4 linked regions of the Homo sapiens genome follow. The protein of the gene in region 1 interacts with the protein of each later gene in a pairwise test. Each region holds a gene or a part of one and is shown on either strand. Other genes may lie near its edges.

Region 1 (8,312 bases):
GGAACGACAGCTCTTTTAAGGCAGCAACCAATTTCCTTCTTCTCCAGGGTCTAGCACATTGGGTGCTCGTTTAAGTTCATTAAGTTCATATATTTATGGAGAATTGAGAGTTCAAGTGTATGTGTGTTGTATAATCAAACCACAGAACATTCTTCCTTTAGTGATGGCAACGAGTGCTTTTCAGCCACTACCATATAAAAACAGTAACCAAAAGAAACATTTATAAAAAACCTCTATGGCCTACAACAAAGACTAGCCTTCAGGGCCTTTCCAATCCTCAAATTCTCCAATTCCATTATATTCTACACCTGATAAGTAGTTAAACTGACCACCTTGAGTACCAATTCTGAGTACAATGCAAGTGGGTTTGTCCGTGTAGACCCAACACAGTGTTCTTAGTCTTGCCGTATGCTTCCAGGTAAGCAAGTTGTATGTGACGGTCAAGTTCCCAGTTCCCAGAGGGAATGGCAATGGATAATAAGGTTGACCTGAGCCATAGTGGACTTGCTCTCCTCAAGATGCTGTGTCGTAAAAATGAGCTATATTAAGATAAATCATGCTGACTTTTATTTTCCTCAAGAATACACTGCTGGCTGCTTGGATTTTTTTTTTTTTTTTTTTTTTAAACTTCAAATTTGTGTTGCTGTGAACAGCTGGGCAAGTTTTTACCCTGTCATGGAAACTATCTGGCCATTTTTGCACTGTTCTGTATGCTGGGAAGGGAGGTGAGCAGAGCTTGCCAGAAAAGAGTTCTAAGCTCAGTTTCTATGCTCTCCTGTAACTTCAGGGACTTGTGAATGTCCAGTTTGTTCCTATTTGTTGCTTTTGTATAGCATGTCGTAATCTGGCTACAACCTTCCTGGCTACCTATTTCACAGGGCTGTTGTAGGAAATTCAGAAAAAGTTTCGTGGTCCTGTTAAAAAGAGCATTCAGCAAAGAATTGAAAAGGTAAAGTTAAGTATCACCAGCATTACATTTCCTGCCTGAATTAATCTTTTCAAAGAACTCTGAGATCTGAGGCTGGCAAATTCACTAAAAAGGCAAAGAATTACTTTAGGTTATTTTTACTAAATCAGGCATCCTAAAAATACTCTTTTTTGATGCCTTGATCAAGAGAGAAGAAATTTCAGAGAGAAGAGGCATACAAATGCATCTACAGTTCTACAAGTAGCCCAATTTCAGTATCAATTTATCCACTCACTATAATAAATATTAAATATATACAATATACAAAGTATTAAGCTAGATACTATAAGGATGAAGAATTATGTAAAAGATGTTCCTATATCCTCCTGTACTACAAGTACACTGTAAGATGTAACTTTTGTTTAGATTTCCTTCCCAAATAAGCAAAGGTTTCTAGTTTCCCTGGGACAAAGAAGGTGAAAGAACAAAATAATTTTTTTTAATCTATTATGACTTTCTGGATTCATAGAAACATTTATTTTAGAACATTCAGGGAGACTTATCTGTTAGTTTCTACTGATGAGTACCAAGAGTGACTGAACTACAGAATGGCTGTGACTTCCAAAGATAACCTGATTAAATCTGACATGCACATGACATGGGGGGAGCAAGGAATCCATGTGTCCTTCAATTTCAATAAGAAGAGTTAAAATGTACTATCGAAGGAAGAAGATCACAACCGTGTGGTTTAGAAAGCAGACCAAAAACAACAGGACAGAAATATTCCAAATAACTTGGAATCCAAGTCACTTGGGTTTCCTTGAATGCCCTGCCATATTAAATCACATATGGCTCTGCAATGAAAGGAGAAGTTAAGGCCTGTCTCATGCCCCACTTCTGCCACTGACTGAGCTTGAGAAAGCAAATTCAATCTTTTAAAGTTATTCAGGGAAAGGCAGAAATGGTAGTCTGGACATATAATGAAATAAGCTTATTAATGTGGGGTAGAAGACGTCTTGAGCAATTAGCCAGTGTCCTTATCCAATTAAGTTGGAAAAGAAAGCCCCAAATTTCCTTAAAGTTTTACTGGTATTAGTTTGCTAGACTGACAGTTCCAATATATACATTCTTTGTATGTGTTTACTTTTCCCCCTAGAGTTATGGCTAAACTGAATAGAACCAAATTCCCAAGATCTGCTTCTTTCTCTTTTAATATCCTATTTTTCCAAAGCCACCGAGCTGATGTCCTTCAACAAATGGATTAAAGTAAATGCTGAGAACCAGCTCTCGTGTCCGAGCAGGGGGGAATGAAGGGTTTATACCCAAGGCAACTAGGGGCATACTCATGATGGTCAATATAACATTAAGGAAATCTGTAGTACATCAAATGATATTCTGAAGTTATGGTTCTATTCAAGCTGAACCATCTTTTGGGAAGCCAATCACAAACAAGATTGCTGTATTTGGAATTCTGACACCAAGAACGCCTAGGCAACCTCTTCACAGAAATGGAAAATAAGACTCAGCCAGCTCCATGTCCCATGGTGTAACCTCACATGCAGCACATGAACAGTTCTTAGTTATTATTACTTTTGAATGAAAAGTAGATCGACTTACATGGCTCTCTGGCAATGAACTGAGGTACAGTGTTGGGCAGAGGAGTACTGGGGTTTGGAGTCCCTACGAGTTTGTTCTTGGCCATCTTCGTGTTTGCCTTAGCAAACTCTAGTCGTAGTGTTTGCGGAATTTCAGGATCGAAGCGGATGCCCTTTGGAAACAGAGAACAAATGGAAGATGTTTTCATTTCCTTTGAGTCAAACCGGAATGGTGACAAAATAAACACACCAGTAAACCCTGGTCTATCAGGAAAAAAGGTCAGCAACCACTCTCATTCTTACTACTTACACAGGTTACATGAAAAATGACAACACAAAGTGTCCCGAAAGTCAGTGGGATTTAGTTTAGTTAAAAAATGTAGTTACACAGATTTTCAACTATTCCTTTTCTTTTTAGACAAAAACTTTTCAGTTTAAAATTTGAACCAGCAAATTCCTAGCACAGTTACACACTTTAATATATAGTAATTTCAGTTACCTCTGACCCTATTCCTGCAGTTTACCTAAAATAGATTATATTCAGTAAAACAAATCACAGACACTATGAAAGACACTAGCGCAAGACAAGTCTATTTGGAACCTTTCCACCATTCAAGAATGTCTTCATTATTAAGCATCCAATACCATGAATTCTGGACCCTACGTGTCAAAAAGATATCCCAAGAGAGTGTATTTTAAATGTGCACCCATGGGACCCACTCAGTTCCCATGTTTTCATGGTGTGGTCTGGAAAGGGACTGGAGTCCTGAAAACGAGTCTCCTAAGAACACAGTTGCCATTTAGTGTTCTGAATGTACACACATGGGCCTGAGGGCTCCAAAGCATCCCCCGCCCCCTCGCCACCATTCTTCCTAATGAGCTTGAAAAAAAATAAGAGCAGGCAGGGCGTTGTGGCTCATGCCTGTCATCCTAGCACTTTGGGAGGCCGAGGCGAGTGGATTGCCTGAGCTCGGGAGTTCAACACCAGCCTGGGCAACATGGTGAAACCCCATCTCTACTAAAATACAAAAAAAAAAAAATTAGCTGGGCGTGGCGGCATGCACCTGTAATCCCAGTTAGTTACTTGGAATGCTGAGACAGAATTGCTTGAGCCCATGAGGCAGAGGGTACAGTGAGCCAAGATCGCGCCATTGCACTCCAGCCTGGGTGACAGAGCTAGACTCTGTCTCAAAAAAAGAAATATCCACAAAAACAAGACTCTCTTACTCTAGAGACCAGGATGAACAACTCTGAACTTCACAGGCTCAGCTTCAAGTATACAAGGAAGAGCCTGTGGCTGGATGGTAATGGCATTAACAGGAAACAAGGGGGGAAGGGGAAGGAAAGAGAGGTCCTTAGGGAGGCCTAACAAAAGCCACAGAGCCCTGACCCAGAAGTCTTGGAGTGGGTGGAACTTCATGAGCATGACTCACTCATTCTGAGAAGAAACCAACTGAGGGCAGTAGCAAAAGGGATGTGGAGAATACCCTTGTGCATACCTAATCAACACCAAAAAGCGAACAGATAGTGCCTGTTCTGTGAAACATAAGAACATTTTCTTTAACTGATATTGTGTTGTATTTTTGTTTTTTAAATTTGGGAAACCTCAGTATTATTTTGAAGAAAAAGTATATAAGGAAAAACAAAAACAAAAAGCAAAGCTGCATTCTGAAGCAGGCTGGGGTGAGGTCACAAAGGACCTCACTGAGGTGGACCAACTTCCACCCTAACAAAGCTAATATTACAACAGAATTAATATTTCCAAGAATGGACCTAAGAACTGTGGTCTCTGCTGGGAGGCAAGCACAGTCCCTGGGTGTTACGTACAGGTATGCTGTAAAAGGACTTCCTCATTTGCACCACACTCCATCAGACACACATAGTAGCAACTTGCCATCAACTTCAGGACGTCCTCCCCGGCACTAAACTTGACCAACCTTCCTGTGAAGAAGCAACTTTCCTAAACCTGAGTTCACATTAACCTGAGTCCTGTGGCCCAGGCCACTGGGGATGATGTGAAGAGTATCCTGGGACCTAGTTGTGGTCTAGAGCATCTAGCCTCAGAAAATGAGGCTGCACATGTGAATTCTATGCCTCAGCTCTTTCACTGGTGTTCCAGAATCAACTGAAGCTCCACATCATGTGTTTGCCTCTTACACAACCTGGGCTGGCGGCTTGAGTCCTAAAACATGCTGAACTAAGTCTCCCCTACTCCCTGCCCCCTTCTTCATACCCGCCCCCCAATTTGAACTAAAATAACATCAACATCATGTTCCAAATCAAAGTTCCAGCATCCTTATTTAAAAAAAAAAAAAAAAAGCTCAGAAGTTAAAATGACCTAATTTGTTTGGCAGCTTATTCAGAGGCCGGAGGCTTAGAATACAAGCCACATTCCTCTAACATCTTTAGCAGCAATACCATATTTGGTAATCAATATCCTGCGCAGCTAAGTTTCCATCCATAGGGATTAGCCAAGCCAAAAACATTTTAAATGTTAAGGGATGATGAAGAGGAGAAAAAAGAGGGGCAGGAAAAGGGAGAACACAGAAACGAAGAGGGAAAAAAGAAAAAGAGGCAGATAGGAAGAAGACAAGAGAAAAAAATTCCTTGTGTTTTTAATTAAAGCCTACTAAGATTCTTCTCTGGCTACAATTACTCCACATTAAATGCTGTCAGGATAAGATTACTGCCAAGTGAAAGGGTGAACCTGTGTCTTTCAAAAGCAACCTTTTCCTCTCTTGCTCATAATTCACCGTTCTTCTCACAATGAACAGAGAACCTTTCTCTTCCAAATGTAAATGGTGTCCTATTTATTACATGGACCAGAAAGGACAGTTTCTGAATATTAGTATATTAATTTGAATATAAACAGTTACTTACAAGCACCCCAATCTGACTGGCTACTGGACAGCCAACAGTCTCTACAAATGCAGGTTCCATATAATCTACAGAGGCTGAATTCCCTACTCAGGGCAAATTCTGGGAGATCTTTAAAAGGACACTGCTGAGAAACAACATATTCTTGTTCGTCCAGTATACTTAAAAGTATACCAGGGCAGTTTCATGCCAGGGAGCCAGGGAAGGCACCAGAGGAAGTGATGAAGAGTAGAAGTTCACCAGGTGCAGTTCAGGAAAGGGCTCAGCAAATTTCTCTGTAACAGGATGCAGAAAGGGTGTTGGGGTGGGAGGGGTCAGGGGTGGGGTGGCTGAACAAGCAGACTGGGGAGAGATCACAAAGGACCTCTTATGCCATGACTGAGGACTTTGGAGTGTGTGCTCAGCTAAGCCATTAGGTTTTAAAAATGGGGGGGATAATATGATCAGCTTTATGTAGTAGGTCTGTGACCCTCAAATGTTAGCAGCATCAACTTGGAGGATTTGCTAGAGTTTCTGGTTCAGTAGCTCTGAGATGGAATCTGAAAATTTGCATTTTTAACAAGTTCAGGGTAATGCTGATGCTGTTTGTGTAGGGACCACATTTGAGAATCACAGTGATTGGCGGTAACTCTAGGGGTGGTAGGGAAGACAGACTCAATGAAGGGACTAGAACAGATCAGATATGAAACCATTAGAGCAGCCCTGGGAAGAGAAGCTGGGATGAGATGGCTACTGCCCTCTAAGCCTTCTTCTTTGGGAAGGGTACTCAGGGGCCAATGTCTGTGTTCTGTGCCCTTATTCCTCTGACCACAGCTGCCTATTTAAGGGGCAGCTGCAGCCTAAAGTGACAAAACCTGTTTTCTCTTATAAGGATTTCAACCTTGAGCCTATATAGAGACACAGAAAATGGTGTTGACCAAAGCTGAGTCACCGTAACAGCCTCTCACTAGAGAAAAAGTCTCCAAATTCCTGTCACTGAGGTCTTCAGAGCACCCTCATACCTGATACAGTCTTGGTTATGTGGTACAATAAACAGAGTACTTCAATTCTGTTAGCTTCAGGCTCCCAGTGTTGTTACAAATGGTTCTGCGCTAAAGTTAGTCCATCAGTCCTTGACAATGAGTTTTAGGGACAATGGAATGACTCATTTAGAAAAAAAATGCTTAGAAACAAAGCAGAGCTATATATACATATTGAGAAAGATGTCCATGGCTAGATTAGCCTGAAAAAAAAAAAAAAAAGATACTCAACAATGTTTGGTAGTATGGGGGTAGAGGAGACTGTATATACATCTGCATGTATACTTCTCTATCTGTGTAAGTCCAGAAAGGTTTAGAATGAGACAACCAACCAGTTAATAATAGCAGACAACTTAGTGGTAGGGGTGAGAGAGGGCACAGACTTTTGTACAATTTTGCATCATTTGAAATTTTTACAACTATGTATAATTTATAAAATCCAATACAGAATTAAAAACAAAAGGAGAGAGGTGGAATAAGGGATTTCCTACTGGGACACAGCATTCAACCAGCTATGTTTTTAAAAACTAGTTACTTTTAACAAAGAACTTTATTCTGAAATAATTTCAGACTTACAGAAAAATTGCAGACATAGTATAATTCCTATATACCCTTTGCACAGATTTCTTAGATGTTAGCATTTCACATTTATCAAACACACACACACACACACACACACACACACACACACAGTTTCCCCTGAACTGATTAAAAGTAAGTAGCAAGCATGCTATTCTTTTACCCTTTACTTCAGTTTGATTTCCTAAAAACAAGGACATCTCTTTGTTTTCCTGATCCAAGATCTAATCCAGAATCACACAGCACTTAGTTGTCATCACTTTAGTCTCCTGAAAGAGTTCTTCAGTCCTTACCTTTCATGAGCTTGATATTTTTGAAAACTACAAGCTATTTATTTTGTAGAGTAGCCCTCGATTTGGGTTTATCTAATTTTTTTTTTTTGGTTTAGATTCAGGTTACGCATTTTTTGGCAGGAAGATCAGAGATGGATGTCCTGCACAGTGCATAATATCAAGAGGCACATGATGTCACTTTTGTCCCATTACGAGTGATATTAGCTTTGATCATTTGCCAAGTTTCTCTATTGTAAAGATGCTGTTTTCCCTTTTTAAGTAGTTTCTTATAGACAGATATTTCCAGACTATATAAATATGTTGTTTTTCAAAAAAATCTACTAGTTTTAACACCTATTAATAATTATTACCTGAAGCAACTGTTACTATTGTAGTTGCCAAATGGTGCTTTAGTAATCTCATTGCTCCTCCCTGCTGCCACCAGACGGAGTCTTGCTCTGTCACTCAGGCTACAGTGCAGCGGCATGATCTCAGCGGCTTACTGCAACCTCCACCTCCTGTGTTTAAGCAATTCTCCTGCCTCAGCCTCCCGAGTAGCTGGGATTGCCTTCATTGCTCCTTTTATATACAGTGTATCAGCTTTCTACTCCATGGAAAAGCTCTCCCTTCTGCCCTGTTAATTATTTACATCAGTAATGACTTACAGACTTATATTTAGCTCTATGCTTTATAATTCATTACTATCATTATTTATTTTGCTGTTCCAAGTGTCCCAGTTGTGTACACATACATGCCCTAACATTCAGATCTACTTCTCTGCATCATATAGATATATTTAAAATATTTTTAATTTTTATTTTAATAAACACATTTTAATATATTTAAAATATATTTAGATGTATTGAAGTTCATACTGATAGCTCCAATTCCAATCTAACACCATTTGGTTAATTCTATCCCTCTCCTTTGCCTATGTGTAACTCCTCTAATAGCGAGAATCCTAGCTCTCATTATCTACTATACATTTATTTATTTGCTCAATACAAAAATGCACAATTGCTAACCGATACCACTATAAAAAGTCTATTAACTACAACTTATA
Region 2 (6,217 bases), on another chromosome or scaffold:
CCCTCAAGTAGATCCCAGTGTCTGTTGTTTCCTTCTGTGTGTTCATGTGTTCGCATCATTTAGCTCCCTCTTGTAATTTACAACATGCACTATTTGGTTTTCTGTTTCTATGTTAGTTTGCCAAGGAGAATAGCCTCTAGCTCCATCCATGTTCCCACAAAAGATACGATCTTGTTCTTTTTTTATGGCTACATAGTATTTCATGGTATATATGTACCACATTTTCTTTATTCAATCTGTCATTGATGGCCATTTATCTTGATTCCACATCTTCGCTATTCTGAATCATGCTACAATGAACATTCGTGCGCAAGTGTCTTTAGTAGAAAACACAGAAAAACCTAGCCAGATATTTAGTAGTTTTTAAGACAAAAAGTAAGCAAAGAATATTAAAGCAGATATGCACATGTAATGTTACCCAGTTTTATTTAAACTTACGTTCTTCACTTTGTAAAATTTAAAGCAACTACTCTAGGGGAAATAACTAGGAGATACAGTAAGAGAAGTGTGCTTTGATATTGCATATCTATATAATTATAAATAAGCAGTTTTGACATCTTGCTCCAGTGAATATTTTCTAGTTACTGGAATTCAGATTATTCCTCATCTATCATGGGTAACAGTAGAAATCAAATTCGTAGGCAAATGATAGGATAGGAGAGCAATAGACGGTATGGATATATGGATATGGACACAGTAGGTATTGTGTTTAAGTTTCTGGTTCCTCAAACATAATTACTAAAAGTCATATTCACAGGCTGGATGGTAAGAAGCAGACTGGCAGCTACTAGAAGAATAGAAGGTTGGGTGGTAAAAGTTGGGTCTATAATTTAGGGATGTGAAAGCAATGGGACAATAACCCATGGATTGGAATACACTGGATACAAAGCCCAGGGATGGAGAGCCACAGCCAAAAGATTGAAAGCCCCTGGATCCAAAGCCCAGAGATCCAGAGTAAGTCATCTGGCAGGGCCTGCAGAGTATAGAGGTTCTGGGGCAATAGCAGGAGATCTGGCAGGTGCTGGACACTACACAGGATGTCTGGCACCTGCGGAGCTCCCAGCAGGTCTCCTGACAGCCCCTGTAGAGAGAAGAGCCCAGCTGGCAGGTGCTGGGAGAGCAGAGGTCAGTGCTGTAGACCAGTTTGCTGGGGTAGGAAGAGCCACAAGAGAAGCCTGGGTAGCGCAGTTATGCCCCACAGGGCGGGAGGAGAAGTTTCCAGAGTAGCAGTTGTAGGAGAGAGTTGACTTACAATGACAAGGTTGTGACTTTGAATGTCACTTCTTGGACCTGGGGACTTATATGCCCTTAACATTGGGTGTGTCATCCACATGGCACATAAAATAGGTTACCTGCCAACTTTAAATGAATTAAAAAGATAATCATAGTCAGACATATGTATTTATTGTGATTTTACAGCTAGGAAGTGCAGTAATGTTTGTGCCTTGGGATTCAGTTAATAGTGTTGACTCTTTAAAGCTATTACTCATCTTCCCTTACCAAAGGTCACTCTTCAGATAACTCAGAGAATCGCTTTAGAGGTAGACAGTGTCTGGGCTGAGGGAAGCTGCCTTAATTAAAAATAATTGATACCCATTTCACAATCTGTCTCAAAATTGTTGCCATCTGGTGCACAAAGTTGCCAGCTAACCAATCTATTCATAGTCATTTCTTTCAAACAAAAACATACATTCACTGTCACCGCAAAGTAGCAAGCTAACTTAACGAAGAATGTCATCAGAAAGCAGCAATGGTGATATGCAAGATATAATGTCTTTTTAAAAATCAAACTTCAACTGGAACAGCTTTAATGAAATATTAACTGAGATTCCCTTATTTTCTGTGCTCCTGTTTAAAACTGTATGCAGACTATTAGGAGCCAATCTTAGCTTTTCTTTCCTTGGGTGTGTGTTTACTGTTGAGTGAATTAAAAATAATAAATTGCTTTATGTATTTTGGAATGGTCGAGATTATTCATCTAAGATGCTTAAAAGGCATTAAAAATAAAAACAGATCATGTGTCAAAGATGCCTAGTGTATTTCTACCTCTAATCAGAGTCAGTGTTTCCCACTAAAAGAATTCCCCAGAATCTGGAAAAGATTCCTGTTTTAAAGAAAGTTTATAAAGTAACTGCTTTGAGATGGTGAGACAAAGGCAGCATCTTAGGAAGATTCTTCCTTTGCCTCAAAAATAACATACATGACTTTGACGTAAATTATTTTCAGGTGTTTCTGACAGGTATTACAACACTTCTAAAATAATGGTCATATTTTCTCTTGTTCTGTGACTTGTATTTCACCTTGATGTAATGGTGTAATGAGACTGATATCTTGAGGAAGAGGAGAGATTGAGATTTATCTTGCTGTGGTTTCTGTGTTGTTTGATTTGCTCATTTTTAGAAAAAAGTTTCCATTCCACTTCTGAATGAAAGTAGTTGAATGCAAAAAAATCCATACTTTGAGAAAAGAATGTGCGACATTACTTAATATCTGATCCCTCAGAGTATTCTTCTACTGAAATTGCTTATATAGGAATGGATGACATTAAAACAAGAAAGCAACTTCAATTTAGGCGGGCTAAATATTTGTGTGGCTATTTTGATATTCAATATTTTATTGACAAACACAACAGGAAGATTTGGAATCTACTAGAATGCTTTTTGGCTATTAATAATTGAGAAGCCTAATAAATAAGAATTGTTTATTCCAGAAACACAGAACAAACTATGTTACTTAATAAATGAAACATGATTGGAGATCAATTTGTCTCCTCAAAAGTTTAGACTTATAAAGTCTACAATTTGGAAGGAAGTTGAGCAATTATCTCCAGCCTCCTGTCAGATTGGAATTCCACTTACAACATCCTAATTAGATTTTCCCAGGGCCCTCAGTATGGAAATATCATTAATTGCAAGAGCAACTCATTTTAGATTTTTAGCTGAATCTTCCCCTAAAACTTTTACCTAGTAATCCTGATTCTTCATAGAAGGGAGTCTCAGTTCACTTCCATTGTAGAATACATCAGTTCTGAAGATGGATGTCTTAAGAGGTTTGCCCATTCCCACAGGTTAAGGCATTTCCTGCATCCGTGCCATATATCTATTTACAGTTTGCTCTGATGAACTTTCTGAGCGAATCCAGAAAAATCCTCATTACTCTAGTACTCTAGGCAGAATATATATGTCAGCTGATACATCAGAGGTCACAAAGGCATTCACTCTCAATTACACATTATCATCATGTATCCTTCCCACCCCTTTATTTCAATTTATAAAGTCATTTGTTACTATGAATTCTTTACATATTTTATCTTTCTGTGAATACTACATGGGATAGACATTTCCCTCATTTCTTGCTTTTCTTTTCCCTCTCTGGTAAAAATGTCACCCTCTGAGAGAAAAGAAAGGAAAAGATTAACGATTTACATTTTACTTATAGTGCTTATTATTTTCCTCTCAGTAACATCAACATGACCAAAAATTACTTATACCTTATGGGGATAAACGGTTTTTTATAATCAAACTTATTGATGACTTCTATGAAGAAGCAAATCAACCTTTGAGTAAGGGATTTCTTTAGTAGTTTTACAATGTAAACTTCAAAGCACTTGTTCAAAAATTTCACCCTTCATTCTTAACTCTTCATGTGCACAAGAGTGACTTAGCTACTTGTGTTATAAGAAATCTAAACTTAAATATGTTAGGCACTCATTTAGCATGTCTACCAAATAAGGATTGTTATTGGGTTATTTCTTCTAATGGTTCAAAGAATTGAAAGAAGGAATAGATATTGAAATTTTTTTTCTGTTCTCAATTGAATTTATAAAATTGGAGCAAGATCAAAGTCCCTTCCAGATTACAAGGTATTTTTCAGATCTTTACAAATACCAGAACTCTCAGTGTCTTAGCCGTTTGATCCAATTTCTAGAAGGACAGGATGAATGAAGCATCAAGTTTTTTTCTTTGTTTTTTTGTTTCTTTGTTTGTTTGTTTGTTTTGGAGATGGAATCTTGCTCTGTCTCCCAGGCTGGAGTGCAGTGGTACGATCTCGGCTCACTGCAAACTCCGCCTCCCGGGTTCAAGCAATTCTCCTGCCTCAGCCTCCTGAGTAGCTGGGATTACAGCCGCCCACCACCATGCCCGGCTAATTTTTGTATTTTTAGTAGAGACGGAGTTTCACCATGTTGGTCAGGCTGGTCTGGAACTCCTGACCTCGTGATATGCCTGCCTCAGCCTCCCAAAGTGCTGGAATTACAAGTGTGAGCCTCCGCGCCCGACCCTTTGAAGCATCAGTCTTATAGGTACAATTATGGTGGTTTTCATTCTACCTAAGCAAGATGAATGAGAAATGGCATTTTTGTTTCATGAACAATTGCTTTGAAAAACTAATGAAATTCTTTCATGTAGAAGTCTACGTTCATAAATAAAATTCTTTGAGTGTTAATATATTTCATTTTGACTGCAGCCTAATTAAGTGTTCTCATTAGAATGGGCACTTGTGACTACACCTATTGCTAGAGTATGTCAGTGTCCAGTATAGAAGGTAACATTCACACACACACGCTCCTCACTGCAAATCACCTGAGCTCAGAACTCCTGTTAACATGTCTTACAACTGCAGCTCTGGAAACTTCTCCTCCTGCTGTTTTGGAAGTTACCTGAGGTATCCAGTTTCCACTTATAATTTGTTCTACCCCAGCAATGCCATCTATTCTCCAAATACCTGCCAACTGGGCTCCTCTCTCTACAATGGCTGTCAGGAGACCTACTGTGAGCCCACCAGCTGCCAGACATCCTGCACTTTGGCCAGATCCTATCAGACATCCTGTTACTGCCCAAAGAATTCCATCTTCTGCAGTCCCCGCCAGACTAACTACATAAGATCCCTTGGATGTGGAAACACTGGCCTTGGATCTCTTGGTTGTGGAAGCACTGGCTTCCAATCTCTGGACTGTGGGTCCAGCTTCTACCACCCAACTACCTTTTCATCCAGGAATTTCCAGGCAACTTGTTACTAACCAGCCTTTGGGTCTCGCCTTTTTGGATCATCTTACTGAATATTCTCCATTCTCTCATGATTATTTCTGTACTCTATGGAACTGCAACACTCAGCCTGTCCAATATCTGTGATTGTTGACCATCTACATCAGTAGGACTCAGCATCCTAGCCCTCTTGGAAGTATATGATTGAACACGGACAAATTAATCTTGACCTAGGACCCTTCCTAAATCTGACAGGAGATATATCTTGAATTTCAATTTTTGTGCCAATGCTCAGGATCATTTCTGTTATCATCTTTCTAAAATCCTTCTCTCATTATTTTCCCAGAACTCTTCCACTCAAATATATTTCAAATAGTTACAATATTTTAAATAAGCTTATTTCTTTGGCATGAATTCTGGCATTCCATTTTATTTTGTTAATACAATACACTTAGGCTGGGCATGATGGCTCACACCTGTAATCCCAGCACTTTGGGAGACTGAGGCTGGCGGATCACTTTAGGTCAAGAGTTTGAGGCCATCCTGGCCAACACAGTGAAAACCCATTTCTACTAAAAATACAAAAATTAGCAAGGCCTGGTGTGCACCTATAATCCCAGCTACTCAGGAGGCTGAGGCAGGCGAATCACTTGAATCTGAGAGACGGAGGTTGTAGTCAGCTGAGATCATGCCACTACACTCCAGCCTGGGCAACAAAGTGGGACTCTGTGTCAAAAAATAAATAAATAAATAAGTAAAAATGATACATTTAGTGAATTCATCCCATATCTTCAACTGTCTTCCTTAGGTACACTTTTTGTTTGTTTCATATGTTTTATTGATATTTTGTTGAATAGAAAACAAAGTGCAAAGAAAATTTAAATATATAACCTATCACATGTTTTAAGAGATTTAAATCCCCTCATAAGTGCATTTTTTATATATTTGCTTCAGAAAATTTTGTTTTAGTCTTTCATTGAAAAAAAATTTATTGAGGTCCTATTATATACCAAGCATTACGCTGAACAAAGACACAAATTCTCTGCTTCAGGAAGTTCCCACAAATACAATTATAACTTATATGGCAAATGGAATAATGGGGTGAAGACAAGATTCAGTGGGAACACAAAGAAGAACTTCAAAAACACTCAGAGAAAATAATATAAACCCATTATTGAAAATAGAGTAAATAAGTTACACTTAATTTTAGAATAACAAATCTTACTGATCTATTG
Region 3 (9,059 bases), on another chromosome or scaffold:
ATGGTTCACGCCTGTAATCCCAGCACTTTGGGAGGTGAAGGCAGGCGGATCACTTGAGGTCAGGAGTTCAAGACCAACCTGGCCAATGTGGTGAAATCCCATCTCTACTAAAAATACAAAAATTAGCCGGGTGTTGTTGTGGCACGCGCCTGTAGTCCCAGCTACTCGGGAGTCTGAGGCAGGAGAATCGCTTGAACCCAGGAGGCAGAACTTGCAGTGAGCCAAGATCCAGCCACTGCACTACAGCCTGGGCGACAGAGTGAGGCTTCGTCTCAAAAAAAAAAAAAATCTTTGGGCCAAATCTCCAGACAGCACAGGCAGGTGCAGAAACCCACCAGGAAGCTGCCTGTGTACCTCTGGCAGATTGGAGCCTGGCCTAAAGCTGCCTTTTATGCAGCTTGGGTCAAGGTTAAACATCATGTCACAGTGATTTTTCTCACTATGTGTGAGACATGGAGAACTGGCTCCAAGTACTACTCTGTCCACTGGTGGCTGGACTACTGATGTGCACCACTCTCCACTCCTCTCACCCTGCAGTGGGTCATGGCCCCGTGCCGGGGCAGAGGAGAAAAATGGGCTGCCTTCTCCAGGACAAACCCTCACTCCAACTCAACTAGGGTGCTGTGATCAGAATGTGCAATTGAGGTGTGATTTTACTGATTTTTTTTTTTTTTGAGACCGAGTTTCGCTCTTGTTGCCCAGGCTGGAGTGCGATGGCACGATCTCAGTTCACTGCAACCTCCACCTCCCGAGTTTGAGCAATTCTCCTGCCTCAGCCTCCTAAGTAGCTGGGATTACAGGCATGTGCCACCACGCCTGGCTAATTTTGTATTTTTAGTAGAGACGGGGTTTCTCCATGTTGGTCAGGCTGGTCTCAAACTCCTGACCTCAGGTGATCCACCCGCCTCGGCCTCCCAAAGTGCTAGAATTACAGGCGTGAGCCAACGTGCCCAGCCTGTTTTTGTTTTTTGTGTTTTGAAGCAGGGTCTCACTCAGTTCCCCAGGCTGGAGTGCAGTGACACGATAATAGCTTACTGTAGCTGCAATCTCCCGGGCTCAAACGATCCTCCCACCTCAGCCTCCTGAACAGTTGGGACTACAGGCACACCACCACACCTGGCTAATTTTTTTTTTTCTTTTTTTAGTAGAGATGAGGTCTTGCTATGTTGCCCAAGCTGGTCTCAAACTCCTGAGGATCAAGTGATCCTCCTACCTTAGCCTCCCAAAATGCTGGGATTGCAGATGTGAGCCACCACACCCAGCCTGATTTTACTTTAAATGAGAGTCCCTCTTCAGAGTCCCTCAGCTGTTCCTGGCCCCTGGCCATGTGCCTTCAGTTGCCCCTGCTTCTGTGGTATCCTTAAGGCTACATTCAGTGCTGAGGCCCTAGGCAGGCAGCAGAGAGAAGCCAAATGATTCTGTCTTTCCCTTATCCACCCAGAGCATGCAAAACCAGGAGCAGTGGTGGGTTCAGGGTGGGCACCAGCTATGTATATGTACATCAGGGACAGGGGGCCAAAGGCAGTCAGTTTCCAAAGACTGCCCCAGAGGCCATTTTTCAGAGAAGCCCTGGGTTCCTCAAGGGCCCTGTGTCCATGCTGGCCCATCTTGCAGGACGAGCCTGTGGAGTGGGAGACACCTGACCTTTCTCAAGCTGAGATTGAGCAGAAGATCAAGGAGTACAATGCCCAGATCAACAGCAACCTCTTCATGAGCTTGGTGAGTTGACTGCTCAGGAAGGGGGCGTGGGGAGGAGCAGGTACCCAGCTATGTGCCTGATACTCAGAGGGTCACAACTGAGGTTATCTTGGGTGGGCGCAAGCAGTAATTTGTGCATACCCAGCCTAGCCCCAAGTAGACTGACATCTCACCTGGAACCTATTATCAAGGTTTGGTTTCTCTATTTCTTTAGAACAAGGACGGTTCTTACACAGGCTTCATCAAGGTTCAGCTGAAGCTGGTGCGCCCTGTCTCTGTGCCCTCCAGCAAGAAGCCACCCTCCTTGCAGGATGCCCGGCGGGGCCCAGGACGGGGCACAAGTGTCAGGCGCCGCACTTCCTTTTACCTGCCCAAGGATGCTGTCAAGCACCTGCATGTGCTGTCACGCACAAGGGCACGTGAAGTCATTGAGGCCCTGCTGCGAAAGTTCTTGGTGGTGGATGACCCCCGCAAGTTTGCACTCTTTGAGCGCGCTGAGCGTCACGGCCAAGGTGGGCTTCCCACCCCACCCTGCCCTATGTGAGGGTATATACGCATGCACCTGAGCATGCAGGGGCTGAGCAGCTGGCCCTGTCTCTGATCATTACTTCCCCTTCACAGTGTACTTGCGGAAGCTGTTGGATGATGAGCAGCCCCTGCGGCTGCGGCTCCTGGCAGGGCCCAGTGACAAGGCCCTGAGCTTTGTCCTGAAGGAAAATGACTCTGGGGAGGTGAACGTGAGTACATAGTTCTTAGTTTCTTGGTTGTCACTAGACAGGACTGATGGGCTGTAGCTACAGTAAGGCTTGGAGGAGGAATTGTGCTGGAAGACAAGCCCTGCAAAACAGTTCCAGGAGTGTATAGGCATTGTAACTAAAGCAAAGGCTTCCAGACCACTCATGCCAAAGCCTAGGGTTGTCCCAAGAAGCCAGGAAGAATTGCCTTGGTGCTTTGATCTTTCCTGGTGTGGAAAATCTTCTGGAGATGCAGGAGTCCATCTAATGACATGAGGAGGCCCCCTTCAGACTTTTTACCTGGAAGCTTTCTGGCTCCAAGGTATTAGGCCTGTGGAGTGAAATTAGACTCAGAATATGCCTGACCTGTCCACAGGTAATTGGGGAACATCTGACTTGGTTGTCTCAGTAAGGTGACCGTTTTGTAGGGCCCATCTTCCATACAAACTGCTGTCAGGGATCCTACCAGAGATCATTCAGCCAAGAGCCTGACATCAGAAAGCCCAGTCCTAGCTTGTGTGAACATGAGGTGCTAGTCTTCTCTGGGGAGGGTCTGCTGGCTTGGCCATCCCTTCTGCAGCCTGTACACTCCCCTTTTGCCCCTTGCAGTGGGACGCCTTCAGCATGCCTGAACTACATAACTTCCTACGTATCCTGCAGCGGGAGGAGGAGGAGCACCTCCGCCAGATCCTGCAGAAGTACTCCTATTGCCGCCAGAAGATCCAAGAGGCCCTGCACGCCTGCCCCCTTGGGTGACCTCTTGTACCCCCAGGTGGAAGGCAGACAGCAGGCAGCGCCAAGTGCGTGCCGTGTGAGTGTGACAGGGCCAGTGGGGCCTGTGGAATGAGTGTGCATGGAGGCCCTCCTGTGCTGGGGGAATGAGCCCAGAGAACAGCGAAGTAGCTTGCTCCCTGTGTCCACCTGTGGGTGTAGCCAGGTATGGCTCTGCACCCCTCTGCCCTCATTACTGGGCCTTAGTGGGCCAGGGCTGCCCTGAGAAGCTGCTCCAGGCCTGCAGCAGGAGTGGTGCAGACAGAAGTCTCCTCAATTTTTGTCTCAGAAGTGAAAATCTTGGAGACCCTGCAAACAGAACAGGGTCATGTTTGCAGGGGTGACGGCCCTCATCTATGAGGAAAGGTTTTGGATCTTGAATGTGGTCTCAGGATATCCTTATCAGAGCTAAGGGTGGGTGCTCAGAATAAGGCAGGCATTGAGGAAGAGTCTTGGTTTCTCTCTACAGTGCCAACTCCTCACACACCCTGAGGTCAGGGAGTGCTGGCTCACAGTACAGCATGTGCCTTAATGCTTCATATGAGGAGGATGTCCCTGGGCCAGGGTCTGTGTGAATGTGGGCACTGGCCCAGGTTCATACCTTATTTGCTAATCAAAGCCAGGGTCTCTCCCTCAGGTGTTTTTTATGAAGTGCGTGAATGTATGTAATGTGTGGTGGCCTCAGCTGAATGCCTCCTGTGGGGAAAGGGGTTGGGGTGACAGTCATCATCAGGGCCTGGGGCCTGAGAGAATTGGCTCAATAAAGATTTCAAGATCCTCCTGCTGTTGGAATCTTTTATACATATAAAGTTTTTGTAGAGACATGAGTCTCTCTGTGTTGCCCAGGATCCTCCCAACTTGGCCTCCCAAAGTGTTGGGATTACAGGTGTGAGCCACCCTGCCCAGCCTGGACTCTTTATTATTATAGGCGCAGAGCTGCAGTTGCCCCTCATGGTGCCAGAAGTTGCCAAGGGTGATGGACAGGCTCCCAGGTGTCTTGCAAAGTCACCATGGACCAATTTGTGAAGATGTAGTATGCATACATACTTGGTCATCACTCAGCTCCCTGGGGCTCAGGTTGTGGTGGAGACAAAAATGGACTGCAGTTAGAACTTAGGGAAACTGGCTGGGCATAGTGGCTCACACCTGTAATCCCAACACTTTGGTTGGGCTAGGTGGGCAGATCACTTGAGGCCAGGAGTTCGAGGCCAGCCTGGCCAGCATGGCGAAACCCCATCTCTACCAAAAATACAAAAAAAATTTAGCTGGGCGTGGTGGTGGGCGCTTGTAGTCCCAGCTACTCAGAAGGCTGAGGCAGGAGAATCGCTTGAACCCGGCAGGCAGAGGTTGCAGTGAGTGGAGATCACACCACTGCACTCCGATAGAGCAAGACTCCAACTCAAAAAAAAAAAAAACGGCCGGGCGCAGTGGCTCAGGCCTGTAATCCCAGCACTTTGGGAGGCCAAGGCGGGTGGATCACCTGAGGTCCGGAGTTCAAGACTGCCTGACCAACATGGTGAAACCCCGTCTCTACTAGAAATACAAAAAAATTAGCCGGCATGGTGGCAGATGCCTGTAATCCCAAGTACTCGGGAGGCTGAGGCAGGAGAATCGCTTGAACCCTGGAGGCAGAGGCTGCAGTGAGCCGAGATCGTGCCACTGCACATTATCCTGGGCGACAAGAGTGAAACTCCATCTCAAAAAAAAAAAAAAACAAAACCATCCCTTCAACACACACACACCACGCTCTGGGAGAAGGTGTGGCATAACTCCTTCACCAAATACAGAGCTGCCACCGTGGACCAGACACTGCTCGTGATACCGAGGGTATAGCTGTTAACAATTCTTGCTTTCATTAAGCATGGACTCTGCTGGGTTTGAAAACACTGAATTCGAAGTTCTTCAGAACTGAATGTAACTATGTGAATCTGGCCAGTTCCTTAATTTTCTTTCAACTTGGTTAGTTCACATAAGCGTGGCAATCGCAAAAATACAGCTGTGAAAATAGAAGCCAGATGGGCACCCGGCGGTCTGGCCTTAGGCCCTGAAGTGCAGGTTTGAGGATTGGTGCTTGCGAAGTCCTGCTAGGCCTGAACTCAGGTGTTGGGGGACGTCAGAGCCGCCAAATACACCCAAAAGACCGGGAGGACTCACGGCCACCACTTTCCTCGGTGGGAGCTGTCCCAGCTGGTCAGATCGCGCTTGCTGGGACCTGGGATCTCGCAACGCATGCTGGGATGCCCAGCATCTAAGGGCGCCCATTGGTCCCGCCCCCACGACTTGAGCAACAGCCAATCAGAGGTGGCAGCGTGCGGAAGCGGAAGTGAGGTTTCCGTGGAGACAGCCGAGCCTGCGGAAGGCGGCGGCGGCGGCACCTGCGATCAGCGGCTGGGGCAGGTTATGGTAGTGCGGACTGCGGTGTGAGCAGAGCGGCCACGGGGCCCGCCATGCGCCGGCGGCCCTGACATGGGCGCCAGCGGGTCCAAAGCTCGGGGCCTGTGGCCCTTCGCCTCGGCGGCCGGAGGCGGCGGCTCAGAGGCAGCAGGAGCTGAGCAAGCTTTGGTGCGGCCTCGGGGCCGAGCTGTGCCCCCCTTCGTATTCACGCGCCGCGGGTAAGGGCATGGGTTCCACCCTGGCGGGGGGAACAGGCGGGCGGCCAGGCGTCCCGCGCCACGGGGGAACTTCCACCGCTGTACCCCACTACAGCCAAGCCAGGACGACCCCCATATTTTGAGCCTCATTGGAGCTGGGGGTGGAGAAAGCCGGGCAGTGGTCTCCTGGCGGCCTGGCCACTCTGAAAGTCTCCCTAGGGAAGAGTGGGCCTGAGGCTTGTCACTGGTCGGACCTTCCGCACGGTAAAGCTAAGCTAGGGCCTCCATAAGACCTCCATAAGATCTCTTCCTTTCATCCCTTCCGGCTCAGCCTGCATACTGAAGGGTCCTAGCCTCCCTTTCCCCCCCAGTTATTCCAAGGGGATAATAACCCTCTGTTTAGGCTGCTTTTCCTGACAGTAGTGGGGCTGAACCTTTGAGCGTAGTGGCTGGGAAAGCAGGGATAGGCCTCAGTATTGGGGGTGAGGCTGAGGAAAAAAGACCCTCACCCAGTTATGTTCTCCAGATCCAGAGCGCTGACCTACCCACCCAACCCCCAGCCCAGTCTCCCAGAGGCCCGCACAAGAGTACCAGATTGGCTTGGCTCTAGTGGGCTCCTGGAGATGGGCGCTCCCTGTGCTAGAGATTTGGCTGTAGACACCAGGAAGACCCAACAGTGGCAATTCACCAGCCACCTGGGGTGTGGGGTCAGGGGAGACGCAGCCTTCATTCCTTTGTGCTTCTTCCTAGCTTAGGCTTCTGCTATTTCAGTCTTTGACACTGGGCCAGCAGCATCTTCTGGAGTGAGACCAACATGCCCAGGCCACCACCCTGCCCACTCTAGAAGTCCTGGGTGAAGGCAAAGTCCTGATATTAGAATGGCTGCCCTTGCTGAACAAATCAAGGATGAGAACTGGCCTTGGTGGCTGCCTGGATGGTGTGCTCTGGTGTGGGCTCTCTTCTTGGGGGTCTGACATAGTAGCACTGCCCACCCATCACCTCACTTCCCACTTTCTTCTAGTAGACCCCAAACCCCAGGCAAAGGATTCTCCAGGCAGGCCAGGCACCGTGGCTCACGCCTGTAATCCTAACACTTTGGGAGATGAAGACGAGTGGATTGCCTGAGTTCAGGAGTTCGAGACCAGCCAGAGCAACATGGCAAAACCCCGTCTCTACTAAAATACAAAAAATTAGCAGGGTGTGGTGGTGCATGTCTGTAGTCCCAGCTACTTGGGAGGCTGAGGCAGGAGAATTGCTTGAACCCAGGAGGCAGAGGTTGCAGCAAGCTGAGATCGCGCCACTGCACCTCCAGCCTGGGCAACAGAGTGAGATTCTGTCTCGAAAAATTTTTTTTAAAAAAAGGATTCTCCAGGCATATTATCCTCTTTTCTTCCCACTTGGGGTTGGGAAGACCACAGACTTCCCCGTGACCTGTGACATTTGCCATGCCCAGGTGTGGGGCTCCAGCCCAGCCTGTTTCCTTCTCCCTCTACACAGCTCTATGTTCTATGATGAGGATGGGGATCTGGCTCACGAGTTCTATGAGGAGACAATCGTCACCAAGAACGGGCAGAAGCGGGCCAAGCTGAGGCGAGTGCATAAGAATCTGATTCCTCAGGTGAGGGGCTGGGCAGCGGTCACAGAGCCTACACTAAGCGTGTGGAGGTGGACCCAGATGGGATCTGTTGTCATGGTGGGGGCTTTTGCGGGGGGATCTGGGAGGAACAAGGAAGCTTCCTGAAGTAGAGGCCCTGAGCTGACCCTTACTAGCCTCTGTTTCCATGGCAGGGCATCGTGAAGCTGGATCACCCCCGCATCCACGTGGATTTCCCTGTGATCCTCTATGAGGTGTGACCCTGGGAGGTGGCAGACAGAAGCACCCCCTGCCCCGGCAAGAAACTCCCAGGCTCAATCAAGGTGTGGCTTCCATTGAGGAGCCCAGGCTGGGGCCACAACCCTGAATAAACTCTGTTGGCCCATAACCTTCAGCTGTGAGCGGGTCGGTCCCACAGTATTGGTTGGGTGTTGGTTTGTGTGTGGACAAGAGGTGGTTGGTGGGTGGTGAAGGCTAATGGCAGAGTTAGCACCCCACTCTCCCAAGCCACCCCTGCAAGCAGCACAGCAGGGCATATACCAGTCAGGAATGCCCGTTACCTGGTTCCTTGCCTGGTCTGCTTTCTTCCAAGTTTGCCTGGGGCCTAGCCCTGCTAGAGGCTACAGCACTTTACAAGCAAGGTATGCTTTCTTCCAGCCCCTAGGCTGTGGGCACTGTATACAAGTAGGAACTTCCTTTCCTTCACTTCCCTTTTAACCCCTAGTCAGAGCATTTCAGCCGTTTGCTACCTCGATTCCTCCTGTGTTGGACAGAGGCTGGGGGCAGTGCCAGCCTGATTCTTCCGACCTACCTGCCATTTGTTCCCGCCTTCAGATGGATGGACAGTTTGCTGGCTATTGATAGGAGTGGGGACTGGGTGGGGGCTTCTCCCTCTACCCAGGGCTGGGCTGATCCCCCTACTGCAACTAACTGTTGCCCCCCAACCCCGAACCCCCAGTTGAGGAGTTGAGAGAGTGCAGGCTGGGGTCAGGACAGGCTGCGGATGCTTGTGCCTATGGGGAGTTACTCCAACCCACCTATTCTGTCTAATCTCCATGGCTTTGCACCAAATCCTCCACCCCTCCAATTGGGAGGGGACTGTTCACCACCTTGTGGTAAGGGACAACACCCTAAGGCTGGTGCCAGTAGTTATGAGTAGCCTACCACCCCCTCCCTTACAGTAACCCCCACCCCTTCAGGATCAGTCAAGGGAAAGCACTAGAACCCCTGGGTAGGGAAAGAAAGGAGGGAAAAACCATAAAAGGAATACTTATAATGTGAAGGTTTGTAAATAGTCCATGATGATGTCGTGGCAGAGTCTGATTTCTATATAGAGGTGACTTTTTTTTTAAGTACTGTGCAAGCTCTGTGCTTCTATAATGTGGGAAATGGCTTGGGGAGGATGGCCCCTAGCTTAGGAAGACTGTTGTGTTATTTGTTCAATTTCAATAAAATGATTTGTAGATCCTGCACATGAGAGTGGCATCCTGTGGGGGCTCTGACACCCAGTGTCTAGACTACCACCTGGGTTCAATAGGTAGGCCTGGCACAGGACTCTGGCAGGCCCCCTATGACCAGCAAAGCCCAAGAGTAAGTCTGAGCCCAGCCTGTGGCCATCCCAACTGTGGCCAGCAGGTGGCTGTGTGTTCACACAGACCTCACTGCAGGCCC
Region 4 (8,312 bases), on another chromosome or scaffold:
GCTCTCAGAATCAGAAGAGCAGCCTCCAGGGAGGGAGCAGGGCTACAGGGACAGCCTACGGGCAGTGGAGCTTCTGGTTTGGCACATGGGAAAGGCTGGGGCGCATGCGCTGAAACATGACACCATCAGGGAAGCCAGAAAGGACAACATGGACAAGGCCATCGATCTGAACCCCCAGCCAAAATGGGTGCTCTCGGCTTGCTCAAAAAGTGCTGCCAGCAGCGATAGGTTGGCAAATTAAAAGCAAACAAATAGAGGTCACGGCCACACAAAGGCAGTAACTGCACTCACAAGGTGGCTCAGCCCAAAGAGGTCTGAATCTGAATATGCCGCACTGTCCCTGCCCCGGGGGAGAAGGGGAAGGCTGGGCCCTGGGAACTAGAGATGATGGCATTCCTTTCATTCCTTCCTGAGGCGGGCCTGGAGGGCTGTGCCCTGGTGACTCCTGTCTCCTAAAGGAGGGCAGGGCCGGCTGAAGGATCCAGGCATTGATGTCTAGTTCTGAGGACACCCAGGACCCGCAACTACAAGGGCCATCTAAAACGTGGCCTGGAGGGGATGGGGGCAGGCGGGCACAAAACTTCTGCTCAGCTCACTCCAGCTCCCCACGTGCTCATCTGTTCCCCAGATCTGGGGCTGCCTAGTGAGCCGTTAAACGCCTGGGTTCCGCCCAGGGCTGCCTTCCACCGGGACGCCGGGCCTGCTGTGGCTGGACCCTACAGGAGACAAGGGAAGGAGAATTAACATCAAAGCTGGTAAAGTATCCTGTCAAAACCAAGTGCCAAATCCTCTGTGGGACAGGAAGGGGCAGCTAAGACAGGTGCTTCGGGATGCCTTGGGAAGTATCAGAGCAGAAACAGGAGCGACTGGTTAGCAGATGGTCAGCCAACAGATGCCTTCCCTGGGAGACGGGGAAGCTGGGGCTGTGGATTTCTGGCCCCGAGGGTCCCAGGTCATTATGCTGAACAAGAGGCACCTTCCCGGGACGATACAGCACCCTGTGCTGGAAGGAAGCACCATTTTCCACAGTGGAGGAGTCTCATGACCCCTCCTGTCTTCCAGAAGGATGGAAGGGAGCGCCCACCCCACACCCCTGGAGAAAAATGCCCCCCAGCCTGGGGAGCCATGGGCTCTGCTCCTCCCTCAGCTGAAGGGCCAGGAAAGGGAAGTGAAGGGGCAGGGAGAGGGAAGATATTTACCTTACGTGTGCTCTGAAAACAAAAAACGCGCACTAGTCCACAGTCATTTATCAACTGCAGTTTCCAACTGTGCCAAAGAGGGAAAGGTCTACTGGGAAGGCTAAAGAGAGCAGAGAGAGAAAGAAGAGGAGAAGCTATTGAGCAGAAATGGTTGTGCCTCTTGGCTCCGGGCAGCACCATGGAGAGGGCCGGTGCCCCGGGCAGGGGAAGCTGAGGGAGAGCTGGCAGCTGCAGTGCTGGTGCTGCGCTGCCCCACAGCCTGCGGCTCAGGATGGCAGAGAAAGCCAGGAGCACAGCATGGAGGGCTGCACAGTGTGGGGACTGCCTTTCCCTCGGCAATACAGTTCCATGAAGAACTGACGTGGAGGACCTACCCAGGATTTGAAATAGTAGGCCAGGGGTCAGACAACTTTTTCTGTAAAGGACCAATATTTTTAGTTTTTGTAGGTCATATAGTCTCTGTCACAGCTACTCAGCTCCACTGCTGTAACTCAAAGGCAGCCATAGCAATCTACAAACAGATGTGTGGGTTCTCATAAAACTTCATTCTCAAAAATAGGCTGCTAGCCAGATGTGGCCCTTGCACCACTATTTGCCAACCCCTGCTGTAGGCAATTTAAAATTATTGTGTCTTCCAAGTCTCAAAAAAGGCACTTCTCTGCTGGGCGTCTAGTGCCAAGGTCTCCAGAAACTGGTTCTCATCTGCATGATTTAAGCAGTGCCCCACCAAAATCTCCAGGTGTGCAGCGGCCCTACGCTCCTCCGGACAGTGAAGTGCCAAGCTCACGGGACAAAATGCAGGACAACCCGAGTTCAGGCAAGAAACAGAAAGACAGCAGGCCAGCCTCACTGAAGCAACTGTCAGGTTGTACTTAAGTGAAAATAACCAACATTGTGTCTAGAGAATAATCCATTACAAAGAGGAAATGACCCACAAAGCCACTATCAACTATTCTCTTACAGGACGGCCCAGTGAAGATTATTTAAAAATCTCCGGGTGTGCAGTGATGGGAAGAGCATTATTTTGGGATTAGGTCTGTATCTTCACTACAACACGTGCAGTCTGAGTAGCAGTGAGCCAGAAAAAGGCTCACATGTGGGAGAACCAAAACCAAAAGACTCCCATTTTTAAAACCTTGGCCTCTGAGACCCCAGTGTAATGTGACAATGTGAACTTCTGTAGAAGGGGCACCCCATACAATAAGAAACCATCACAGTGGGTAAGCACAGAAGCCTCAACAACCCTAAAAGGTGCGGCACTAGCTACTCGTCCAGCTACTTTGGAGGCTGAGGCAGGAGGATCACTTGAGCCCAGAGTATGAAGCCAGCCTGGGCACCATGGCAAGACCTTATCTCTTAAAAAAAAGTGCAGCACCATCCTTAGAGAGATCTCTTTAGGAAGAGATGCAACCCATCCCCAGATCCAAGACTTAAGCAGCACGACCTCACCCGCTGCCTTTTTGCCAACACCCAGATCTGGAGCCCACAGGGGCTGAAGCATCCACATGGCCCAGGGTGGGATTTCTGTCCCTTGCACCTGCATGTGACCTCACAATTCAGAAAGGACTATTAGAAAAACATGTTTGTGCTCTCGAGTGTGGGTCTGAGCAGCCACAGTGGCTCCACGGGAGGCCTACAGGAAGCAGGTCAGAGTCCCTGGGCCTTCTCTCTGGCTCTCATTCCTGCCCTGTAGAACAGGCAGAACAGCTAGCAGCCCTCTGGCCACGGGGAGGTTAGCAGAGTTAGACATGGAAGCTCCTAGCACAGTGCCTGGCAGAGGAAGTGCTGATAACAGCTTGTCTTCCTCGTGGTGGGGCAGGTGGGGGTGGGAGGAGGCAAGCCTGCAGCTCCCTCCACAGCCCCACCAGCTCTTCCAGGAATCTCAAGTTCAGGCATATCTCTGACCCCAACCTTAGGAACGCAATCAGAATTAAAGTATCTTCTTGAAAAACAAGAACAAGAAACCCTTCACCACTCCTACCCACAGCCTACACTTCAGACTCTTTCACCTCCCTCCTTGCAGTGTGGGGATGGGGTTCCATATCCCACAACCTTTAGTTCGATTTGCAAAATTTCTTCCAACACAATCTTCCTGCTCGCAGTGGAGCACTGGATGGGCCACGCTTAAATATTAGTATGAACTGACCAAACTCTTCACAAATGCCCTTCTAGTGTCTAGGATGGTGTCTGCCAGCCACACACCCTCTAAGCCAGGGCCACTGCTGACTCAAAGTGACCTAAACTTAATCTTAAATGGCCAAAAGAGTGTCTGAACTAAAACTTATTCCCACTTCCCAACAAATCTCTGATTAAGTCAATCCATTCTAAGACGTCCTTGAGAGAAATACCGACTTACTATACTCTACTCTAAATACCAGTTAGTCTATAGTTTGGTGTCATCCATGCTATTAAAGACAGCAAGAAGTTCAAGTTGAATAATGAATTAAAAAAAAAAAAAGCAAGAAGGGGGTTGGGCACAGTGGTTCATGCCTGTAATCCCAGCACTTTGGGAAGGTGAGGCAGGCGGATCATCTGAGGTCAGGAGTTCAAGACCAGCCTGGCCAACATGGTGAAACCCCATCTCTACTAAAAATACAAAAATTGGCCAGGCGTGGTCGTGGGCGCCTGTATTCCCAGCTACTCAGGAGTCTGAGACAGGAGAACTGCTTGAACCCAGGAGCCGGAGGTTGCAGTGAGCCGAGATCACACCATTGTACTCCAGCCTGGGCAACAGAGCAACAGAGTAAGACTCCATCTCAAAAAAAAAAAAAATTATTTATATATAGATATATATATATAAAGAAGGGAAAAGGATGGGGAGAAAAGAGAGAAAAAAGACAGAGGGTGGGGGGGCGGCGAGAGTGCAAGTCTGTGTGTGTGAGCTCACGGCCCTCAGGTCCAGACACCATGCACGATGTACCACTTGGCACTCACCTGCCGCTGTGGTGGTCTTCTCACCAAGGAGCCTGGTCTGGCTGCCTGGAATAACCTGCAGGTCGGTGTTCTCAGGGGACTGTGGCAGGTTCTGGGCTCGGGTAGCCAGGAGTGCATTGAGGTACTGCAGTCGCGTAACCTGGAGGATGACAGCGTTACTGGGACCCAATTGGTGAAGCGAGATGCAGAAGGTAGGCAGGAAAGGTGACACCGTGCCCGAAGAGGACAGAGGCACAACTTTAAGCTAGTTAAGGGCAGAGAAGAGCAACTGAGTCAAGTGTTTTTAAGACCTTGCTTGGAAACTGGGTGCAAAGGTCTGTGTCCCTCAGGATGAGTGGAAGGCCTTGTTCCGGGCAGTCTCAGACCAGCTGGTCTAGCCCCCGGTGACACAAAGTCGGCTAAAGCCAGCACCCACAAGCAGCCCAGGCAGTCACCTTGATGAGCTGCAGATCAGAGAGCGCCCTCACGGTGTAGTCGGGACAATACGCAGATGAATGCGTGCCGTCACCTGGGTCGGGCTGCAGGTCATGGCGGATGGGCTGGAGCGAGGACACCGGGGACTGGTGAACTATCAAAGGAACAATCAGTGATGGCAGGAGCCATGCTGGCAGCTGGGAGCCTCCTCCCCTGGTGGGGACAACTGTACAGTTTCGAAGACCCACCCCACCAATCACTCTGGAGAGGCAATGTGCATGGGAAGCTGGGAGAGAAGGACAAACACAGCCGGGAGAGGTTTTGCAGGGGTGGAGTGGGCCACAAAGTTGAGCGATGAAGAATGCTGCCCTCCCTCCTGGAAGCCCAGGGGCTACACCACCTTGTGGGGTGGTGGGCTCAGGTGGAAGGAGAGGTGAGGAGGGGCACTGAGAGCCCAAGTGATGATGGGGGACAGGCTCTGCAGCCTCCACCCTGGCCCTCAGCATCAGCAGGGCCGTGGCTTACCCGAGGATGGCACAGTTAGGGCCGACACTCCATAGTACGTGAAGGCCCCATTCTCAAACTTCAGACCCTCTTTCCCGATCTCCACTTCAACCCTGCCCTGGGAGGAGTGGCAAGGAGAGAAACAGATGCGGCCAGATTACCTTTCCCGTCAGAAGACAGCGGAAGGAGAAACCCACCACCTCAATTGTTTGGGGTGGGAGGGTGCATATCCGCATGCCCCTGCTCCCCTCTTCTCCTAGACCCTTCCCTGGCCTGAGGAAGCAGGAGGGACTCCAGGCCTGGGACCCACAGCTACCTGCAGGATGAGAATGAAGTAATCCACCGGCTGGCTGCGCTGGTACAGGTAGTGGTGTGTGGCCAGCCGGTTGCTCTCGTCAAACCTCACTTCCTGGTTGACACTGGGATGCTTCAACAGGTGCAGCAGGACCTTCTCAGAGATGCGCAGCGGGCTGAATACATCCACTTCTGCACGTGGTGGAAAAAAGGGACAGTGTCCACTGGGGCCTAGTGGCCAGTGGAACCACACCCAACACTGTAGGCAATTTAAAGTTATTGTGCCCACCAGGGATCTCCCGGGTGGCCTGTGAGCAGCTGCCCCTAACACCTCAACACAAGAGAACTAGGCAGGGGCCAGGTGCGGTGGCTCACGCCTGTAATCCCAACACTTTCGGAGGCTGAGGCAGGTGGATCACCTGCAGTCAGGAGTTGGAGACCAGCCTGGCCAATATGGCAAAACCCCGCCTCTACTAAAAATACAAAAATTAGCTGGGCGTGGTGATACACGCCTGTAATCCCAGCTACTTGGGAGGCTGAGGCAGGAGAATCACTTGAACCCAGAAGGCGGAGGTTGCAGTGAGCCAACATCGTGCCACTGCACTCCAGCCTGGGTGACAGAGCGAGACCCTATCTTTAAAAAAAAAAAAAAAAAAAGAACTGGGCAGGGCACCCCACATCCGCCCAGCTGAGAGCTGAGGCCCCCTGGCTGTGGTGCACCAGGCGTGGCACTGGCCTGGCCCTGCTCTTGGTCATCTGGCAGAGAGGAGGTGTCTCTCCCATGACCCAAGATGCTGGCAGGGCTGCAGAGAACACAGAAGTCCTCAAGACGCACCCGCCTGCTAGGAGTGGGGAGCAGAGTCAGTGTCGGCCCTGGGCGGCCTCCTGACCCACAGAACGGTGAGGAGAGCAGGGGGCATGGACCACCCTCCCGCCTCACCTCGGGACAGGAAGCGCTGGGTGGCCAAGAGCAGCTGAGGCGAGATTGTTACTTTATATTCATCATCAGACACCTTGAACAAGGAGAACTCCTCCTTCCGCTTCAGAGGGGCCATCAGAGAAGCAGGCTTCCTCTTCACCACGGTGTCTCCTAAGATGGAAGAAGAGGGCGCGCTCAGGCATCAGCCACCTGTCAGTCAACACGACCACACTAAGGGGCTGCATCGCCTGCTCCTTCCTCCTGAGGCCAGGGGGTCCTCGATGGAGCAGCATCGGAACGCCAGGGACATGTCCTCAGCACCGCTCCCTCCACGGGGCCTGCTCCCACCCCAACCACACAGAGAGAGGGGTGACTATCTGCCTTGGAGCTGGCTGAAGAGAATGCTGATATGATAACAAAGCAGCTTGTATAAAATAACAAGCATCCCTGATAGGTCACTGGATGTAGACTAAAAACTTTTTTAAATTTAGGCCAGATGTAGTGATTCACACCTGTAACCCTAGCACTTTAGGAGGCTGAGGCGGGAGGATCACTTAAGGCCAGAAGTTCAACACCAGCCTAGGCAACATAGAGAGACCGTGTCTTTACAAAAAAATAAAATAATTAGACGGGTGTGGTGGCATGCGCCTGTAGTCCCAACTGCTCAGGAGGCTGAGGTGGGAGGAACACTTGAGTCTGGGAAGTTGAGGCTGCAGTAAGCCATGAATGCGCCACTGTACTCCAGCCTGGATGACAGAGCAAGACCGTCTCAAAATAAAAAAAAAAAATTAAAAAATAATAACAGCCTCTCTGGCCACTGAAAAACTTCTCACTATAAAGCATGTATTCAAGGATTACCAATGCAAATGGGCAGCAATTAACCTGGAGACCCCATGCCTATGGCAGTCTCAAGAACGGAACTAGAGATGCTATGTTTGAAAATCGACGCATGATTAAAGCGATACTTCTGGAAGCATGCAGGGCAGGCGGCCCGGCCATGACGCACAGACTCTGTACAGCCCTGCAGACCTCAGCCACCATGCTAACAGGCGGACACTTTTACCATGCAATCAAGGGCACGGGATCAGCTGCTTTGGGAAGACTTATTTCCACCCCCTCCAGTCTCTCAGGCTGGAGCGCAGTGGCGTGATCTCAACTCACTGCAACCTCTGCCTCCTAGGTTCAAGCGATTCTTCTGCCTCAGCCTCCTGAGTATGTGAGACTACAGGCACGCACCACCACGCCCAGCTAATGTTTGTATTTTTAGCAGAGATGGAGTTTCACCATATTGGCCAGGCTGGTCTCGAACTCCCGATCTCGTGATCTGCCTGCCTGGGCCTCCCAAAGAGCTGGGATTACAGGCGTGAGCCACTGCGCCCAGCCAGGAAGACTTTCTTCATGGCAAACAGTGGGTTCTTTCAGGGGACATTTCTGTAATGTACAAAAGAACCTGCAAAAACAAAAGCACCTAGGGAGACAGAAGACTGGGAAAGGCCCATGAAGGGCAGAGCTCTCTCAGTAATGGAGGAAACTAATAGGACTGCTGCTAATGGAGCCCCAGGTGAGCCCTGGGATTGCAAGGCCACCGCTGGCACAGGCAACCATGCTTGTGTGGAGGTGCAGGCGTGAGCCCTCCTGCAAGGGGGCTCTCTGCCAGCACCCATGCAGGGCTCAGAAGGGGGCCTGGCTGTGGATCTTGCTGGGTTCCAGCAGCACAGAGGCCCACTGGCCTCTGACGCAACATACGCCTGGGGAAGTGTGCAGGCCCAGCGGAGACAGAACTGCCAAGAGTCTGGACTCACGGTAGTCTTCAGACTCGTCCAGGATCTCGGACCTGATGATCTCCTCGATCACGTCCTCCAGGGTGACCAGGCCCAGGACCTCGTAGAAGGGGTCGCCTTCACCCTCGTTGTTCACCTTCTGCACGATGGCCAGGTGGGACTTCCCTGTGGGGGGAGGACACTCATGGAACAGCTTGCTGGGCCCCCCCCAGTTTGATTCATCTCCCCTGGTATAGGCCCACCAAAAGGACACGGCTAACGTTCATG

What was found.
Region 2: the proteins of RBPMS (region 1) and KRTAP15-1 interact in binary tests that used the Homo sapiens proteins (3 or more experiments, as listed by UniProt).
Region 3: the proteins of RBPMS (region 1) and TUSC2 interact in binary tests that used the Homo sapiens proteins (3 or more experiments, as listed by UniProt).
Region 4: the proteins of RBPMS (region 1) and CNNM3 interact in binary tests that used the Homo sapiens proteins (3 or more experiments, as listed by UniProt).

What each region holds. Positions count from the first base shown.
Region 1 is NC_000008.11:30,498,649-30,506,960, reverse strand, and holds part of RBPMS (RNA-binding protein with multiple splicing), read right to left. Parts: intron 6,429-8,312; exon of another isoform or gene 6,251-6,428; intron 5,686-6,250; exon of another isoform or gene 5,443-5,685; coding exon of another isoform or gene 5,383-5,442; intron 2,782-5,382; exon of another isoform or gene 2,676-2,781; coding exon 2,525-2,675; intron 1-2,524.
Region 2 is NC_000021.9:30,435,725-30,441,941, forward strand, and holds KRTAP15-1 (keratin-associated protein 15-1), read left to right. Parts: upstream 1-4,550; 5' UTR 4,551-4,603; coding exon 4,604-5,017; 3' UTR 5,018-5,145; downstream 5,146-6,217. UniProt on the Homo sapiens protein: In the hair cortex, hair keratin intermediate filaments are embedded in an interfilamentous matrix, consisting of hair keratin-associated proteins (KRTAP), which are essential for the formation of a rigid and resistant hair shaft through their extensive disulfide bond cross-linking with abundant cysteine residues of hair keratins.
Region 3 is NC_000003.12:50,324,710-50,333,768, reverse strand, and holds TUSC2 (tumor suppressor candidate 2), read left to right. Parts: upstream 1-5,545; 5' UTR 5,546-5,669; coding exon 5,670-5,815; intron 5,816-7,291; coding exon 7,292-7,412; intron 7,413-7,582; coding exon 7,583-7,648; 3' UTR 7,649-8,860; downstream 8,861-9,059. Other genes in the region: RASSF1 (ras association domain-containing protein 1), read left to right, coding at 1,615-1,719, 1,913-2,210, 2,320-2,435, 3,042-3,188. UniProt on the Homo sapiens protein: May function as a tumor suppressor, inhibiting colony formation, causing G1 arrest and ultimately inducing apoptosis in homozygous 3p21.3 120-kb region-deficient cells.
Region 4 is NC_000002.12:96,824,956-96,833,267, reverse strand, and holds part of CNNM3 (metal transporter CNNM3 isoform 1 precursor), read right to left. Parts: intron 8,211-8,312; coding exon 8,067-8,210; intron 6,436-8,066; coding exon 6,286-6,435; intron 5,538-6,285; coding exon 5,368-5,537; intron 5,170-5,367; coding exon 5,073-5,169; intron 4,702-5,072; coding exon 4,568-4,701; intron 4,273-4,567; coding exon 4,134-4,272; coding exon of another isoform or gene 3,976-4,133; exon of another isoform or gene 1,300-3,975; coding exon of another isoform or gene 1,250-1,299; exon of another isoform or gene 717-1,249; coding exon 652-716; 3' UTR 1-651. UniProt on the Homo sapiens protein: Probable metal transporter.